4 linked regions of the Homo sapiens genome follow. The protein of the gene in region 3 interacts with the protein of the main gene of each other region in a biochemical or structural test. Each region holds a gene or a part of one and is shown on either strand. Other genes may lie near its edges.

What was found.
Region 1: the proteins of EEF1D (region 3) and RNF20 form a complex in vitro, tested with the Homo sapiens proteins (one study listed by BioGRID).
Region 2: the proteins of EEF1D (region 3) and GARS1 form a complex in vitro, tested with the Homo sapiens proteins (one study listed by BioGRID).
Region 4: the proteins of EEF1D (region 3) and CAMSAP2 form a complex in vitro, tested with the Homo sapiens proteins (one study listed by BioGRID).

What each region holds. Positions count from the first base shown.
Region 1 is NC_000009.12:101,543,453-101,547,880, reverse strand, and holds part of RNF20 (E3 ubiquitin-protein ligase BRE1A), read right to left. Parts: intron 3,115-4,428; coding exon 2,996-3,114; intron 1,062-2,995; coding exon 915-1,061; intron 745-914; coding exon 667-744; intron 483-666; coding exon 363-482; intron 1-362. UniProt on the Homo sapiens protein: Component of the RNF20/40 E3 ubiquitin-protein ligase complex that mediates monoubiquitination of 'Lys-120' of histone H2B (H2BK120ub1).
Region 2 is NC_000007.14:30,601,153-30,605,580, reverse strand, and holds part of GARS1 (glycine--tRNA ligase isoform 1 precursor), read right to left. Parts: coding exon 4,381-4,428; intron 2,548-4,380; coding exon 2,459-2,547; intron 2,086-2,458; coding exon 2,009-2,085; intron 1-2,008. UniProt on the Homo sapiens protein: Catalyzes the ATP-dependent ligation of glycine to the 3'-end of its cognate tRNA, via the formation of an aminoacyl-adenylate intermediate (Gly-AMP).
Region 3 is NC_000008.11:143,583,916-143,588,343, reverse strand, and holds part of EEF1D (elongation factor 1-delta), read left to right. Parts: intron 1-1,491; coding exon 1,492-1,615; intron 1,616-2,053; coding exon 2,054-2,125; intron 2,126-4,428.
Region 4 is NC_000001.11:200,857,113-200,861,540, reverse strand, and holds the end of CAMSAP2 (calmodulin-regulated spectrin-associated protein 2), read right to left. Parts: intron 4,236-4,428; coding exon 4,117-4,235; intron 3,788-4,116; coding exon 3,482-3,787; 3' UTR 837-3,481; downstream 1-836. UniProt on the Homo sapiens protein: Key microtubule-organizing protein that specifically binds the minus-end of non-centrosomal microtubules and regulates their dynamics and organization.

The sequences.
Region 1 (4,428 bases), on a different chromosome or scaffold from region 3:
AACAACTTTACCTCTTCCTTTCTGATTAAGAGGCCTTTATTTCTTATCCTTGCCTAATTACTCTGGCTAGGACAAAAGTAATGACAGCGAGCATCTTTATCCTGTTCCTGATCTTAAAGGAAAAGCTTTCAACTTTTCGCCATTGGGTATAATGTTGGCTGTGGGCTTGTTTTATATGGCCTTTATTATGTTGAGGTACACTTCTTTACACCTAATTTGTTAAGAGTTTTATCATAAAAGGATGTTGGATTTTGTCTACATTTTTCTTATCCCTCATGAATACGCAGATTCACAACTATGTATATACGTGAGTTGATCAGCAGAACGTCTGATTTTACTGCCCTTCAGGGATGCGTTCCTACCTTCAGCTTTTCATTTTGTGTAGTGACCTCCTCAAAGTCTTGCCGAAGTTTCTCCAGCTCACAGAGACGGTTCTGAGCCAACTCTTTGTTCTCCTCAAGCTCTGCATTCATTTCCTCAAACTGCAGAGAAGCAGAAAAATAGAGAATAAATAAGTATTCTTCTTAAATCATTTCTAAGCTTCCTTTCTTCACTGATTCGCTATTCCAGCAAAACCCCATGATGTCACTTGTGAACACAGTCCTAAGTACCTAAGCATGAAAGCTGACATACAGTCCAAAACATGTCCTGAGTCACTGATTTTACCTTCCGAGCATTGATAGTGATTGTGCCGCCATACAGACTGCTCCCCGCTCCATACACCTTATAACCTTTGGAATTCACCTACAGAGAACACAAAGATTCTTTAGTGAGAGACTCTTAAGATTTCAGTCTATAACCAATGTACCTTCAAAGGATGAGATTTTTTCCTCAAATACCATGCCCCAAGGTGAGTCTTCCTGAGAACACTCCTTAAAATGATTCTAGTCTCCAAGCCATAAAACAGCACTGACCCGTTCTAGGACTTCTGCTAAGTGTCGGTTGAGTCGCTGTTCCCTCTTTCGAATTTTGTCAATATCCCACTGCAGGTCATCAATCATGGACTCCAGGACAGACACTCGTGATTCGGCTGTCTCCACTTTACTCTGCAACTTGGAGAACTACATCCCAAAGACAAACATTCAGAAACATATAGCAAAAAAAGACCAAATTCCATAATATTAACCCTTGCTTATGAGTAATTATAGAAAAGAGGCAAATAGAAGATGCTTCACCCTCTTCCCAATGCATGATTACAAAAATGAAATCACGGATTCCTCCAACAATTCTGTGTCAGTTATAATCATGCAAACTTTAAGTCTAAAGTCTATAAGAACTCTCACACAAAGAAAAGACCACCTAAGATTCAACAATTTTTCTACCTCTGAAAAGCACCATTTCTCTGGACAGACCACAAACTCATAAAAATTTTGTAATTTTTTAAGAGATAATAAATAGTATCTTTTGTTTTGTAAGATAAATATTTTTTCAAAAAAACCATTTTTACCCCCAAATTTCTCTCCACAGTCCCACAAAAGGTAATCCATTCATTCACAACAAAAGAAAACTTCCATACTCTTTTTTAAGCTCACCCCAGAGCAATCTAGAGTCAGATACAATACAGTATAGATTATACTATAATCTAAAGTCAGATACTCTATTTAGGAGCTATACACCAGCTAACACTATTTAGTATTTTAACTACTAAACTATTACAAGTTCACATTAATCTATATATACCCTTTGTGCTAGGTTTTAAAACATGACACAAAAATCCTTTGAAAGTCCTCTGAACAAGAGGTGGGATCTTTGTTCCCTCCTCTTGAATCTGGGTCAACTTTAGAGACCCAATGGAAATGTCACTACACAATTTTGAGGCTATATCAGAAAGGCCATGAAGGTTCTACCTGGTGATCTTGGGATGCTCACTGGAAGAAGTCAGCCAACATGTAAAAATTCCAACCATCCTGAGACTACCATGATGGAGAGGCAAACTGCAGGTATCCCAGTAGACAATTAACCCAGCTGACAGGCAGCATCAACAGCCAGCCATGAGAGCCAACAAGGACATCACAGTTTAGCAAACAACTGCCCTCCAGGTTAGTAATACTATCTGAGATTTGTCAAAGGGCTAGAAAAGGAAGACCTCTCCATCTTGGTAGCACCTAGTCAATGTCTTAAAACATGATAAAAATATTCTATTTTCTTACTAGACTCCAGTTTATTTATAAGGGCTACTACATTCTAACCCCTTTGAAGGTCCAGGATAATCCATATGAATTAATAAATTCCCCAGATGATATTCATGCAACCAGGCCAGCATGGACCTTAACACTGGGGTTTAGTAAACAAAGGCATATGAAGAACAAGAGCTTTGAAGTCAAACAGACCTACAGTCACAACACAGCTCAATCACTTTCTAGCTATGTGCCCTCAGAATAATCACTAACCTCTTTGAATTTGTTTCTTTGGCAATAAAATGGGAGTTGTTTTGCCATTAGAGATAACATTCATAAAGTGCTTAAATTCTAGGCACTAAGTAAATGGCAACTACTAAATTACTAATTAGCATAAGAATTCAGTGGCCAAACTAAGGTGGGGCAAATTCCAGTAGAATATATTTTGAACTAAATCAAAATGATCATCAGAAGTATCAGAAAAGTCATTTAAGGCCTATCATCACTTTATCTTGATCATTTTGTGTAAATAAATAAATGTCCAAATCTTGGCATGGTTTAATCATGGCATTATTTGCACCCAAGTTTAGACTGAAAATTGACATTCCTCAAATTCCTAGGACATCATCAATACAGTAGTTTCTACTTCCCCATTCCCTGTGGAATTTCTACCACGCCATTCCTCAATAACACTATACAGTCTTTTATATTTAGGGTAATTCATTATTTGGAGGTTTGGAGTTGTGTTGTGTTTTACAAAATCCCCTATGATATGATAGGCCTTCTAGAGTAAGGTAATCTTTGAGGTGCTCAGAATTGTAAGTCAACATCTGCCACAGCCCACTAGACACAGCCATCTCTCCTTTTTGGTTAAGTACCTCCTGAGACATGGTGCGATGCTTTTCCTGAAGAAGATCTGTCAATTCCTGTAGCCTCATATTCTCCTGTGCGAGGAAAGAGTTCAGCTCCTGCACTGCTTCCTCCACTATCAGATTATCTGGGGAAGAAGAACTATACTTTAATTTAGCATCTAGAGTGTCATTTTTTTTTTTTTTTTAAGACGGAGTCTTGCTCTATCGCCCAGGCTGGAGTACAGTGGCGCGATCTCGGCTCACTGCAACCTCTGCCTCCAGGGTTCGAGCCGATTCTCCTGCCTCAGCCTCCAGAGTAGCTGGGATTACAGGCACATGCCACCACACCCGGATGATTTTTGTATTTTTAGTAGAGATGGGGTTTCACCATGTCGGACAGGCTGGTCTCAAACTCCTGACCTCAGGTGATCCACCCACCTCAGCCTCCCAAAGTGCTGGGATTACAGGTGTGAGCCACCGTGCCTGGCCTATAGTGTCAAATTTTAAAACTGTGTATCCTTGGCCAGGTATAGCAGCTCACGCTGTAATCCTAGCACCTTGGGAAGCCAAGGCAGGCCGATCACTTGAGGCCAGGAGTTCAAGACCAGCCTGAATAACAAAGCAAGAATCATATGCTCTTATCACATATTCTCATATCATATATTCTGAAATACTATGTTAGGGGCACTTCTGAAGCTTAAAAACCAAAATGTACACTACTATTTACAAAGCAGGTAGGTAAATCCATAGAACTTATTACACCAAGTTCGTATGTTTAAAATTAGAGTTGCAAATACTATAGCTGAAATCCAAATGTAATTAAATGAAACCAGATACTCTCAGGATATATACCACCCATCAAAGAGAGTTATCAGGAAGAAAAATATGCTTTCTCATATCACCTCTTGGCATTACTCTTAGTATCAATACAGAACAGGTTGGTCATATGGTGGTTTTCATGGTTTTCAAGCTAGGCTTGCCCATCAGAATCACTTGTGGAACTTTTAAAATAGACATTTCCCTAGGACCTATCTCATACCTACTTAATAAGAACCTCCATGGGCAAAGCCAAAAATAAGAATATGCTCAGAAAACTCCCAAGGTTATTCTGATTCATAACCTGAGTTAAGAAGTAGAGACTGAATTTTAGTCCTCTCAATATCCTAAGCACTGAGGACAGGGCTAGAATACAATAAAATTCAATAAATGTTTAGTGAATTTATAAACAAGCCCATAAATGCAATTCTTTTGAATCAAAGACCAAACAAACAGACAGTACTGCCCTGGCAGGTTAGACAGTGCCGCCCTGGCAGGGTTAGACAGTGCCGCTCTGGCAGGTTAGACAGTGCCGCCCTGGCAGGTTAGACAGTTCCGCTCTGGCAGGGTTGGACAGTACTGCAGTGGCAGGGTTAGACAGTGCCACCCTGGCAGGGTTAGACAGTGCTGCCTTGGCAGGTTAG
Region 2 (4,428 bases), on a different chromosome or scaffold from region 3:
GTGCCCCTCCACTCCAGCCTGGGCTACAGAGTGGGGCTCTGTCCCCACCCTACCACACACAAAGAATTAGGGGAAAGAAGTCAGGAAAGTGAGAGGGGAATAGATACAAAAAAATCTAACAGTGAAGCAGGGTGATAGGTACATAATTGTTTATTATGTTTTTATTTAACATATAAAATTTTGTATGTTTTGAATTTTTCATAAACAAGTTAAAAATGGTTTTTAAAACTGGAACATCCAGAGATGGGCCACAAAAACAGACAGAGAAGAGAAACAAAAGAATTCGTTCTGAGCTGTTAAATCCACATAATAGGAGTAGAGGTCTTCCTACCACAGAAGGTGAATCAGGGCCTTTTAAAGAAACAATGATGCTTCATAAAGCTGAAAAGGAGTCAGACACTAAGGTGCAGAAAACGCTACTCTGTGCTTAAGCAACAGATGGGCTTTCAGCCAGTGAATCCACCAGGGCCATTTCTGAGTGCTACACCATTTCCCATGGGTCCCTTACTTTTCATTGAAGATTATATTGACAGCTGTACATGCATCTGATATGGCAAGTCAAAAAACAAATTGCTCTCCTAGAACACAGATCTGAAATAAGAGAGAAGGCCAATGCTCAAACAATAAATTGACTTGTCAAATCAACTAGTTACTTCCCAACTCTGACAACGTACTTGGAAATGAATAATACTGTTAAGATCAAAAACATATACACAAAACCTCAGTAAATCTAAAATTCTGAATGGAAAATTTTAGGGATACTTAGAGGCATTTTCCATTTTTTCTAATAAAGGGCATGCCTTTGGATAAGAAAATGAGATGAACGTGTGGCTTCAACAGTATCAAAATGTAAGAAATAATTTTCTAAACCATGAGTAATTACTAAAACAATGAGCTTCAAGCAAGGGATAAAATTACACTCCACAAGTATCAAAATAAATCAGCAGATGATTCAACAGCCAAATTAAGAAAGTTTTCAATGTAAATGAAGAAGGAGAAATTATTTTAGCTATGTTGGAAAGTTAACTATCACAGAGAAAAAAAGCATGCTAAAAAAAAAATTAGGACAACAGTGGAAAAGTATCCAGTAATTCCCATGAAAAACAACATATTAGGGAGTTCTATATTCAGGCAGAGAGAGAGAGAGAGATCGGTGTAAAGAAAATAGGTATAATCACAGTATTGGTTTTTTGTTTTTTGCCCAAGGAAGTAAATAAAATTTAAGAGGTGAGCCTCAGTAGACCTCATGACTAAACATGGTGTTGGAGAAATGTACTTTGCCTAAACGGAATAGCCAACAGATGAGGTGAGACACCAGCAACATATATACATGAGCACATGCATCTTCCCAGGGAGACGTGCAGTTTTGATCACATTCTTAGGGTGGTCTGTGACCCAACAAAAGGATAAGAACTACTTCTAATATAGAAAGTATTCCTGCAATTGGTAAAAGGTCAGAATAAATTATCTCTGTGGTCTCTTTTTTGTCTTCTCTAAAATTTGTCAGCTTAAATATTATACAAATTATAAAACTTTAGGCCTATAGGCAAACTGAGAAAAGCAAGGACAGAAAAGTCAGGACCTGCTCATGAGGTTCTAAGAATAATAGCATGAAATCAGGGTCCAAGCAGAGGCAGATCAAGTAGCCAGTGAGAAAGTGCTCATCAAGTTATCTGCCCCGAAGTCTCCACACCAGTGCTGAACACTACCCATCATCAGTCACTCCTGTGGTTTTAGCTATTAAATCCAGAAAAGTAGTTTCCAAGGTCAGACAAATTGAATGCCTATTAACACGGACTTGTTAGTTTGGGCTGAAATAAAGGGTTAGTCACAAAAGAGAGAAGAAAATAAAAATGCAAAAAAAGAGACGCTATACAGGACAGAATTAACCTCTGCTTCATTACAATGTGGCCAGGGTCAGCATAATGGGAAATGCAACAGTCATTAAACACTGAAAGAAGGACAGCGACCACCTAGGTTACTCTGATAACATCTCTAGAGTACTCACCTGGGCCAAAACACTTTCCATTTCTGATTTCTTTTCGACAGAACACTTCTTATCAGACATCAATTTCTGTAAATGAGCTGTAAGAACAGTGTTGACATATATCAATCAATGGGAAAAAGGACAATGCACTTTTCAGTTTCAATGCTAGACAATTAAAAAGTAAATCCAAGCATAAAGTTCTTAATTTACATGAATCCCACAGTTGATTTTACAACAGCAGTCATGGTATTGTCTTGATTCATTTGCTAATTAGAAAAATTATCTGTATATAACTAATTATCTACATATAACTTTTTTAAAAAATAAAGGACTTGATCTATATACTTAAGATCTGTGCACTTTGCTCTTTGAATGTTATGCCTCAATAAAAAATTTAATGAAAGACATCTGAGAGAAAGTTTAAACCTTTTATTTTGATCAATCCTACCTGAAGGAGATGAAGAACCTCACCTTTTAATAGATGGTCAGCACGAAAACATTCTCCATTTTTTACGTCTTTCACCATGAAGTCAGCAAATTTGTCTACATGGCCAGAGGTCCTAAATTAACAAATGCCAACCCAATTTGTCATTCTCATACAAATTACACATAGATATTACCTTATAAGATAATTCCCCATCAATATTTATATCCATCTCAAAGATGGAAGCTCCCATATCTATAGTAATGATGTATCCATGACAGTAATGGATGCCAGAGAAAATTCTTCCTCAAATCTATTTCTCACCCTCTCCCACATTCTTCCTTCCCATAAGAAAGAAGACATTAACTAGACAATAAAAAGACAATTCTTTTCTACAAGTTGTCATAAAGTCTGTACTATTCTTCAGGATCAATTAATCCATGCCTATGCCATTATTATTAGTGATCTAAGCAAAGGCCAAAATCACTGGGAATTTGACTAGTTAAGAATTCATGGCAGCTCAGTATAGACATTGAACCTTAAGGGAAGTGTTTTCTGCCACTGAAACCTGTACTGACATTGGTATTATCTCTACAAAGTTCCTATTGGTGGAACAAGTAGCTAAAATGATAGGTAGTCCTGATCTTATAGAGCCATCATTCAGAATTCCTCCTCTTCATTGGCTGAAATTATTAAGAGAACCTAACGGATGCCAATAGTAAAAATTAGCTCTCCACCAGTCAACCTTAAATGAATAATGACGAGTTACAAAATGGCAAGAATTCCTCTTTCAGGCCGGGCGCAGTGGCTCACGCCTGTAATCCCAGCACTTTGGGAGGCCGAGGCAGGCGGATCACGAGGTCAGGAGATCGAGACCATGGTGAAACCCCGTCTCTACTAAAAATACAAAAAAATTAGCCAGGCACGGTGGCAGGTGCCTGTAGTCCCAGCTGCTCTGGAGGCTGAGGCAAGAGAATGGCGTGAACCCGAGAGGCGGAGCTTGCAGTGAGCAGAGATCGCCCCACTGCACTCCAGCCTGGGGGACAGAGCGAGACTCCATCTCAAAAAATAAATAAATAAATAAAAGAATTCCTTTCAGTTTCACATTCTGAAATTCTGCCCTACTTTGGGAGGCCGAGGCGGGCGGATCACGAGGTCAGGAGATCGAGACCACCCTGGCTAACATGGTGAAACCCCGTCTGTACTAAAAATACAAAAAAAAAATTAGCCAGACGTGGTGGTGGGTGCCTGTAGTCCCAGCTACTTGGGAGGCTGAGGCAGGAGAATGGCGTGAACCTGGGAGGCAGAGCTTGCAGTGAGCCGAGATCAAGCCACTGCATTCCAGCTTGGGCGACAGAGCAAGACTCCATCTCACACACACAAAAAAAGGAAATTCTGCCCTACTTTCAATAACGTTGGTAGGAATAATCTAAGTTTCTGCATTGAAACTTTAAAACAAATAGTATTTAACTGAAAATCTCTACAAGTATACCTTTGCTCAGAACTTGTATTAAGGAAATAATCAAGGATATACCCAAAAATCCATCTATCAAGATATTCGGTGCAGTCAAAAATGAGAAACACTTTAATGCTTTCAATATGGCACAAACTAACATATTATGGCACTTCCATAAAACAGAATACTATGCTATCATTAAAAATGCTTTAGATGAATAGTTAATGATATGAGTATATGTTCATCAATATTACATGAAAATAAGCAGTGTACTGCTAACACTGAAATACATAGGGACGTACAGAAAAAACAGGAAGGACAAACACAATCATCTTAACATAGCTATCTGTGAGCAGAAGGTATACATTTCTTTGCTTTTCCATATTTTTCAGATTTTCTACATGAAATGAGTAGTTCTTTATAATCAGGAAGTTATTTAGATAAGTATATTAAATAATTTAATAAGTTATTTTATTTAAAGTAGGATACCCCCACTCCAAAGTAAGATCTCACTTTAAAACTGGCTCAGGGGTGAGCATGGTGCAATCGATCTCCAGGATC
Region 3 (4,428 bases):
ATTGGACTTGGAGGGGAATACAGAGGGCATGGAAGTGGCGAGGCTGGCCTGTTGGCGAGGGTGTCCTGGTGGTGGGGCGGGCTGAGTCAGGGAAGGACTCTGAAGGTCCCAAGCAGCTGCTGAGGCCCCCAAGGAAGTGGTTCCAACCTTGGACCCCTAGGGGTCTGGATTTGCTGGTTAACAAGATAACCTGAGGGCAGGACCCCATAGGGGAATGCTACCTCCTGCCCTTCCACCTGCCCTGGTGTTCACGGTGGCCTGGTCCCTCCTTGCCGAGAGAGTGTCCTGGGTCAGGGACGCAGAGGACGCTCACAGACTCCAGCCCTTTGTTACCGAGAGGACACTTGGCAAGGTCCAGCGATGGTCCGGAGTCCACACACAGACTGGCGGCAGGGCAGGAGGGGGACAGTTCTGTTGTGCTTGGTTGGACAGTAAGAGGGTCTTGGCCAGTCCAGGGTGGGGGGCGGCAAACTCCATAAAGAACCAGAGGGTCTGGGCCCCGGCCACAGAGTCATCTGCCCAGCTCCTCTGCTGCTGGCCAGTGGGAGTGGCACGAGGTGGGGCTTTGTGCCAGTAAAACCACAGGCTGGATTTGCCTGCGGGCCATGGTCCCTGTCTAGGGCAGCAATTCTCAACCTTCTTGCTCTCAGGACCCCAAAGAGCTTTCATTGTATCTATTGATTTTTACCACATTAGCAATTAAAACTGAGAAATGGGCCGGGCACGGTGGCTCACGCCTGTAATCCCAGCACTTTGGGAGGCCGAGGCGGGTGGATCACCTGAGATCAGGAGTTCAAGACCAGCCTGGCCAACATGGTGAAACCTTGTCTACTAAAAATACAAAAAATTAGCCAGGCACAGTGGTGTGCACTGGTAGTCCCAGTTACTCGGGAGGCTGAGGCAGGAAAATCGCTTGAACCCAGGAGGCGGACGTTGCGGTGAGCCGAGATCGCGCCGCTGATTCCAGCCTGGGCGACAAGAGTGAGACTCCATCTCACACAAAAAAAAAATAACAAAAAAACTCAGAAATGCTAAGTGTACTTATTTGTTGAAGAAACTTGTTACATATTACTAACATCTTTTTTTTTTATGAGAAATACTTTTCCCATAACCAAAAAATTCAGTGAGCAGAATGGCCTTGCTTGAGGTTTTTGCAAATCTCTCGGGTGTCTGGCTTAGTGGGAGGCAGCTGGGCCCTCATACCTGCCTCCGCACTTCAGCTGTTTGACATAAACCCAGCTTCGTGTGAGTGAAAGGGAAGGGCCTGGGGACCCTCAGAGGTTCTCGGACCACACTTTGAGAACTCCTCGTCTGGAAGACAGGCCTGGGGATGCCATGTGGGGTGAGGGCTTACGGGCTTGGTGTCGCTTTGTGGAGAACCGCTGGTGTCTGAAGCGGGTGTCAGCCCCACTGCACCTTGGTGCTTCTGGGCTGTCCTGATGCCGAGGCCCACTTCCCAGCCATGCTGACTTTGCCTCTTTCCCCTCCCAGCAGAAAAATGGCTACAAACTTCCTAGCACATGAGAAGATCTGGTTCGACAAGTTCAAATATGACGACGCAGAAAGGAGATTCTACGAGCAGATGAACGGGCCTGTGGCAGGTGCCTCCCGCCAGGTGAGAGCTGCACGTGGGGCGGCTGGGCGGCTCTGCTGCCCGACAGGAGTGGCCGGGGCACACAAAGCGGATTCAGCCAGGCCAGGAAGGCAGAGGCACCCTGGCCCAGTGGCTCTGCTGTGGGTGCTGGGAGTGGGGTCTCGGGGCAGGCGGCCTTGGCCGGGCCCCCGGGCCGGGTCTGCTCAGGGCCCTCCTGCCGGCGCCTGTGCACTTGGTGTGGGGCCAGGCCTGGCACTCCTTCCCCCGCAGACATGGGCGCCTTTGCCTGTCGTCACAGCCTCAGGCATCTCCCGCTTTTCTGGCCCGCCAAGCTCTCGTTCTGTGCAGTACTTTCTTGCTGTCTCTATGTGAGGGTTCATGGGGTTTTTTGGTTTGTTTTTTAATTAAATTCTTTTTTAATAATAAAAAAAAGACTGGTTCTTTCTGCACTGTCTGCAGGAGAACGGCGCCAGCGTGATCCTCCGTGACATTGCGAGAGCCAGAGAGAACATCCAGAAATCCCTGGCTGGAGTGAGTACCCGCGGCCCACGGACCTGCGGGCTCCTGCTCGGCCAAGCAGCATGTCTGATTTTTCCTGATGCTGCTGGTTGTTTTGGCTTCACAGCAGAGTCAGGGCAGGGTGCACGGCGCTGTGCTCCTTGGGACGTGTGGCTCTGTGACCTCCATGCCCGGACTGCCACGGACAGTGTTCTTATTCTCGCGTCCCTTCCGTGCTTACCTCGTCTGCCGGCTGGCGGTCACACTGGCCGCTCCTGTGGGGCCGGCTGGGAGCTGAGTGGTGCCATTTGCAGGGTGTCCTGTGGGCACCTGGCATGAGAGCCTGTGCCTCCCTGCTTGCTCCCTGTGGCAGGACTGTGTGTCTGCTGGGCCTTCCCACATTCCCTCTTAGATCTTGCCTCACTGGGGAGAGAGAAGTGGTGGTTCTGCAAGGCGCAAGGAGTTCAGAGCCTAGAGTTGGCACCGTCTTGAGTTGGAGACCCAGAAGGAGCCCTGTATCCCTGCTTGGCCTCCAGGCCCCGGGCCAAGATCAGGAGTTGGAGGCAGTAGCTGTGGCCTGACAGGCTGGCTGGGGAAGGGGTGTCCTCCGGGAGGTGGCAGCCCTGGTGTTCCCGAGGAGTTGGGACTGCGTTCTCCCCGGGACGGGGTGGTGTCCTGGCCCCAAGAACGGGGTCAGTGTTTCTGTGGCTGCTGCTATGGCTTTCCACAGCCTCACGCTGGAAACAGTACATCTGTATCATGCCGGGTTTCCAGGCCAGAAATCTGAAATGTGTCTCACGAGGCTGTCCCCAGTGTCAGCAAGGTCGCCATCCTTCCAAAGGCTCAGGAGGAGTCTGTTCCTTTGCCTCTCCCAGATTCTGGTGGATGCCCACGTTGCTTGTTTCAAGGTGCTCAGCAGGCAGCCTCATCCCCGCCCCGCCTCCACTTCCATCTCGCGCCTCTCTCGAACCTCCTGCCTCGCTCTGTCACTTACGTGGTTCTTGTACTTGCTTTGGGCCCCCAGGATCCCAGGTCCAGGATGTTCCCACCTCAAAATCCTGAATTTAATCGTGTTTGCCAATTCTTCTTTTTGCCATGTAAGGTAGTGGATTTGCAGGCTCTGGGGGTTGGGACGTGGGCGCCGGAGATTCTCATTGTCTCATTTGTAAGGTGCATTGCTCCTCACCAACATCTGCAGAAGCCTGGGTCCCCCACAGTGTCCCTCCAAAGTCCAGAATCCCATCCAATCAGGCATGGGGGATTGCGTGGTCCATCCTGAGGCAAAATTCCTCTCCATCTGTGGACCAGTGAAACTGGAAAGCAAGTTATCTGCTCCCAAAATACAATTGTGGGACAGGCATTCCCTTTCAAAATGGGAAAAAGAAGAAGGAAACAGGGCGTCACTAGTCCCAGGCAGTTTCACAGTCCAGCCCGGCGGGTCACGTGAGGTTTGAAGGGAGCGCTCCTGTGTGGCCCATGGTCCCCCCCGCTGTCATTTTTTAACATCCCTATTCCTACCAACAGCATGTTCGTGGCAGTTTAGGTTGTTCTAGAAGATGACGTGTTTTCTCTGCCCTGCTCCTCACCTCCTCTGAGTCCTCACCGAGGGCCTTAGCATCTGAATTCTGCCAACAGGGTGCTCAAGACAGGCTAGGGTTTTTCTTTTGGAGGGGGTGGGTGAGTTGTGGACAGAGTCTTGCTCTGTCGCCCAGGCTGGAGTACAGTGGCATGATCCTGGCTCACTGCAACCTCAGCCTCTGGGGTTCAAGCGATTCTCCTGTGTCAGCCTCCCGAGTAGCTGAGACTGCAGGTGTCTGCCACCAAGCCCAGCTGACATTTTTTTTTCTTTTTTTTTTTTTTTTTAGTAGCGGCAGGGTTTCGCCATGTTGGCCAGGCTGGTCTTGAACTCCTGACCTTATGATCTGCCCACCTCGGCCTCTCAAAGTGCTGGGATTACAGGCGTGAGCCACTGTGCCCGGCCCAGTCTAGGGGTTTTCTGTCACGCTCCTCAAAATTCTTCCCGCCTCACCACTGCCCAACTCCAAAGCCATCTCCACATTGTTAGGCATTCCAGCAGCACCCCACTTCCTGGGCCAGGATCTGTGTTGGTTTCCACTTGATGTTGCTGTAACGTTGCCACACTTCCGTGGCTTAAAACAGCACAAGTTCCTCACCTTACAGTTCCGGGGGCCAGAAGTCTGAGATCATCTTATGGGGCAAAATCAAGGCTGTGGTCCTTCTGGTGTCTCTGCGGGGAGAATCCGCTTCCTTGTCTCTTCTGGCTGCTGGAAGCTGCTCACGGTCCTTGGCCCAAGGCTCCCAGGCAGCTGTCTTGT
Region 4 (4,428 bases), on a different chromosome or scaffold from region 3:
GTAGCTGTGACTACAGGTGCCCGCTACCAGGCCTGGCTAATTTTTTTTGTATTTTTAGTAGAGACGGGGTTTCACCATGTTAGCCAGGATGGTCTCGATCCCCTGACCTCGTGATCCGCCCACTTCGGCCTCCCAAAGTGCTGGGATTACAGGCGTGAGCCACCGCGCCCGGCCGGGTTAAATATTTTTATTTCTGAAAATTAAAGTACTGGAAATATTGTGGAAATATAGCTGTGCTCTGAAGTTACAGAACCTATCAAAAAGGTCCCAAGCTAGAAAACCACATTTATGTCTACTAACCAGATATTTCTTCAGGTATATAATTAGGCATGACGATTATTTTATAGTTTTGTTATCAGATCTCTTTTTTCTTAAAAAACACCTTTTTCTTTACTCTGTTCTGAGTAAGTAGAATCAGCAAAATCAAAGTGAAACTTACAAAATAATGGTCAAGAACTAGCTTCTCATGGCTACTCCAGATCAGTGAGTTCACTGGCCATTCAGTTTCAAAGACATAGAGCACTAGTTCTGGTACAATATAACTATCAATTCACCAAAAGATAGTGAATTAGTATGAGCAAGATTAACATAAGATAAGCACATTTATAAATCATACTATGTAGACCGTCTGTGCTAAGCATAGAAAGTTACCGACTTTTTAACATTGCCCTAAGTTAGTATTTTTAAAAGGCTAATTATTTCAAGTTGCCTGTTATGAATATTCAAGTTATTAAATTTAAACATAGGTTAGGGGATAGAAAAACTGTATGAGTTATCTCAAGTTCAAATAATTTTACCAAAAACTACATTTTATTCAAGAAACAGAAAAGGAGTCATTTGGTGCCATGCTTTTATTCAAATGAAAGGGGAAAAACTACACTGTACCAGGAAATAGCAAGTATGACAGTATTTTACAGCACAGCATCTTAAAAAACAAAAAACCTGTAAGCAATGCTCTAGAGTGGACAGGTAAGCACACCATACACTGTACATTGCTCAACAGTGTCCATGAAACCATAATTAAATAGCTGAATTTGGCTTTAAACAGCCAAATAAAACTGTAACAGTCATTCTAATACAAAACGGAAAAACCAAGAACTAAATCTTTCCAAAGCTGTGTCAAATAGCAGAATTTGACAGGCTGCACTGGTAACCACGACAAATGTTTGGCAAACTTAATGGAATAGTTATCATAATAATTTGACCTCTGATGATGAAAGCACCAGTGTGTTTCAGTAAGGTTGACGAAAATCCTCAGACTTTATGAAATGGCATATTTTTCAACTGTATAATTTTAAAAACATAATTAAAAAAAAGCTGCACCATAATAAAAAAATCTGCAGACTTAAAGAAATATATCCATATTCCTTCTGCATTAATAAAGTAAAATCTTATACTGAGAGCAATGAACTCTGTGGCAATATTCACATTCTACCTTTAGACCTTATAGACATTCAATTCAACTGTTGGACACACACAAATTTAAGAATAAAGGGTGGTCCTGTTTAGTTTTAAAGTTTCTCCATTGTCTTGCATCCAATTTTCTTTATTTAATAGCGAAGTAATATCACAAAGATTGCTTTGATGAGGGAAATTTAGTTAATATTGAAATGAACAAATTTAGTAACGTAAAATGCTTATTAAATTATCCTTTTGACTACTATTCACATTTTGATTAGATTCATTTATAATTTTTTAAACTAGTTTTAATCTAAACGTGTATTTGACTATCATTTCCTTCTAACTGTGATAGAAATTACTGTCCAAAAGGTAAAATGTGCAATTCCCCATTTTTAATATCCATATGTTATATACACAATATGTATACACTTAAAATATAAGAGTTACATATCCTGGTCTCTTACATGCAAACAGTAGATCACAAATAGTTTTGAGCTACACATGTATCTTGCACAGGTATTGGAAAAAAATCTGTGAAATTTTTTTACAGTTTTAACAAATATACATAAATATAAGAACATAAATTACAGTAAAATATTGACAGCATTTGAGAAAATGTTGATAACCCAGATGCACTGATGCCTAAAGGCCTTATAATAATAGAAAAGTACAGCTCAGGGACATCTCATTCCTATTCTTTTTTTTAAAATAAGTAAATACATCATATGAGACATTAGTTCTTTCTCTAAACAACTCAATTAGAGAAATGTATATATTTTTATCTCTACTTCCCATGAAAGAAAACAAACTACGCATCTCATTTATGATACAATACTGTCTTCCCCCGCTAGTTTACACATTTGTCACAACACTGAAATATAACAGGGTCACATAATCATTCAAGTCTTTTCCTGAGAATGAAGTTTTTCCCCAACTAACCCTCTGGTATACACTGTTAAAGAACAAAGATCATGTAGAGGAGATTTCAAGTGTATACTTATTCTAAGCCATTCCACTTGAAAAGGATTAAAATGAAGAAAAACCCAATATAAGTAAAATAATGTGAAGCTATTTTAAAATTAAAATGTAGCCCTTTGTACATGTTTAAAAATTCTAAATATAATTTTTATATGAGTTATAAATATAATGTAAAGACTTCTTGAGAACTTGTTTCAGGAAGTCTTACATCTTCAGATTGAAAGACTACTCTCAAAGTGTCATTCACTTCTGCCAACTTATAAAGTGACTTACTTTAAAAGAGATAGAAAGCCTTTTTTGTTAAAAGAACAATCTAAATTATTCTGAGTTGGCCAGAAGTGGTGTAAAAACAGCACTGATTTAATCAGCAACTTCTCATAACATATTCTTGGTTAAGCTCATGTGGTTTAAAGCGAACCTACTAGCAGCTCTTTACAACACCTCCTCTTATTTAATAGAGAATGTTAATACTTGAGTGAATAATAAATAGAGTTGTAAATACTTAGCAGAATAATTTTTGCAAATGCTGTAACACCATTAAAATATGAGGGTTACTGTAAAACTAAACACTAGTGTTTCTCTTAACATCATAAGAAAGGTGCGAGTTACTTCTAAAGGTATATTTCCTACTTTCATGATCTCCACATGAAATAAAATACAAAGGTATCTTAGAATAAACCCCCAGGAGAGAAAAATAGCAAACCATCTGAAGACAAGAATATACATTAAAAGGTTAAAAAAAAGCAACAAATAAAACACATAATTTGTAATCTTAACCATATTTCAATGATAAATCCAACTAATATCCATGAAAATTCAGTGCTTTAATGTATCTAATATCAAGCAGGTGAACCTGATAACACATACAAATCTCCATTTGTGAATTAAAACATTTCCTTCATCATTTGGACTTATCACTTAATTGAGAATGTTCTGCACTCCAAAATACTGTGGTTTACATTCCAGTTGTTCATGACAACAGAGCTTAATGTCCAGTTTTAATTAATAAAAGTCTTGTTGGCAATTAGAAAGATTTTCTATAGGCAGGAAAGATGAAGTGCAAATTTACCATGAATGTTCTGAAGCAAGTATTTCCCAACTTCTATGCCTTAGTGGGTAAAAGTTTTTTGGGTGTTACTGGTCTTTTGGTCTGCCATAAATGGCTATGAATGGTAATTGCATCAACACTGGCAGATAAAGTTTTAGCGGGTATGTGGCTAAACTGTTTCCTGTCAGAATTATATTTGTAAAGTCCTTCAATCATTTTTTTAGTGATAGATTTAGGGCCTATCCCAGTCAGTTTATTGATTTCTTCAGTTTCTGGGCAATAAGTGTATAAAGATCTGAACTGGCATCCTGAATCCCGGAACAAGATTAAGAAGTTGTTGGCATCTGATTTCTCCATTTCCTTTAAAATAAAAAACAAAAACAACATAACAACACGAATAAAAACCCTTTATTTTGCTGAATAAAGTTTATATAATTATGTTACGTTTCTTAGTCACATTTTATAACATTATTTCAATGACAAATCTTAAAGCCTATTGCTAGTCTTTAATAAAATCTGCAGGCTTCCAGAACCTAATGTGAAAATAAACTAAATCTGATAATTAAAACATCTAGCTACAGATCTTTTTACATGCTGTTGAAAGTCTAGGCCCATGAGAGTACATTCTCTTGAATGGATAAAAGACTTCTACAGTTTGCCAAATTTAATTTTCATGCAAACATGCTTACCTCCAGTATTTTTTTCTTCTGACCTTCATTTACTTTTCCAGCCAAACAGCAATGAGCTAAAGCATTTTGTATTATGTGCTTATTGGATTTTGCACTGGGTTCTTTGTAGAGCTTTGGTCCTATGGTAGGGATTTAACAACAATAATAAAAATAACATTCCTAAGTCAGAAATACTACTATTTTAAAATGATGTAATTGTTCCTACACTGCTGAAATATTGTAATAGAAGACCAAATTCTGTGCTTAAAGGCCTCTTACTGGCTGCAATCCAACCAAAACATTGTTTTATCCACCCAGAGATATGGAGGATGT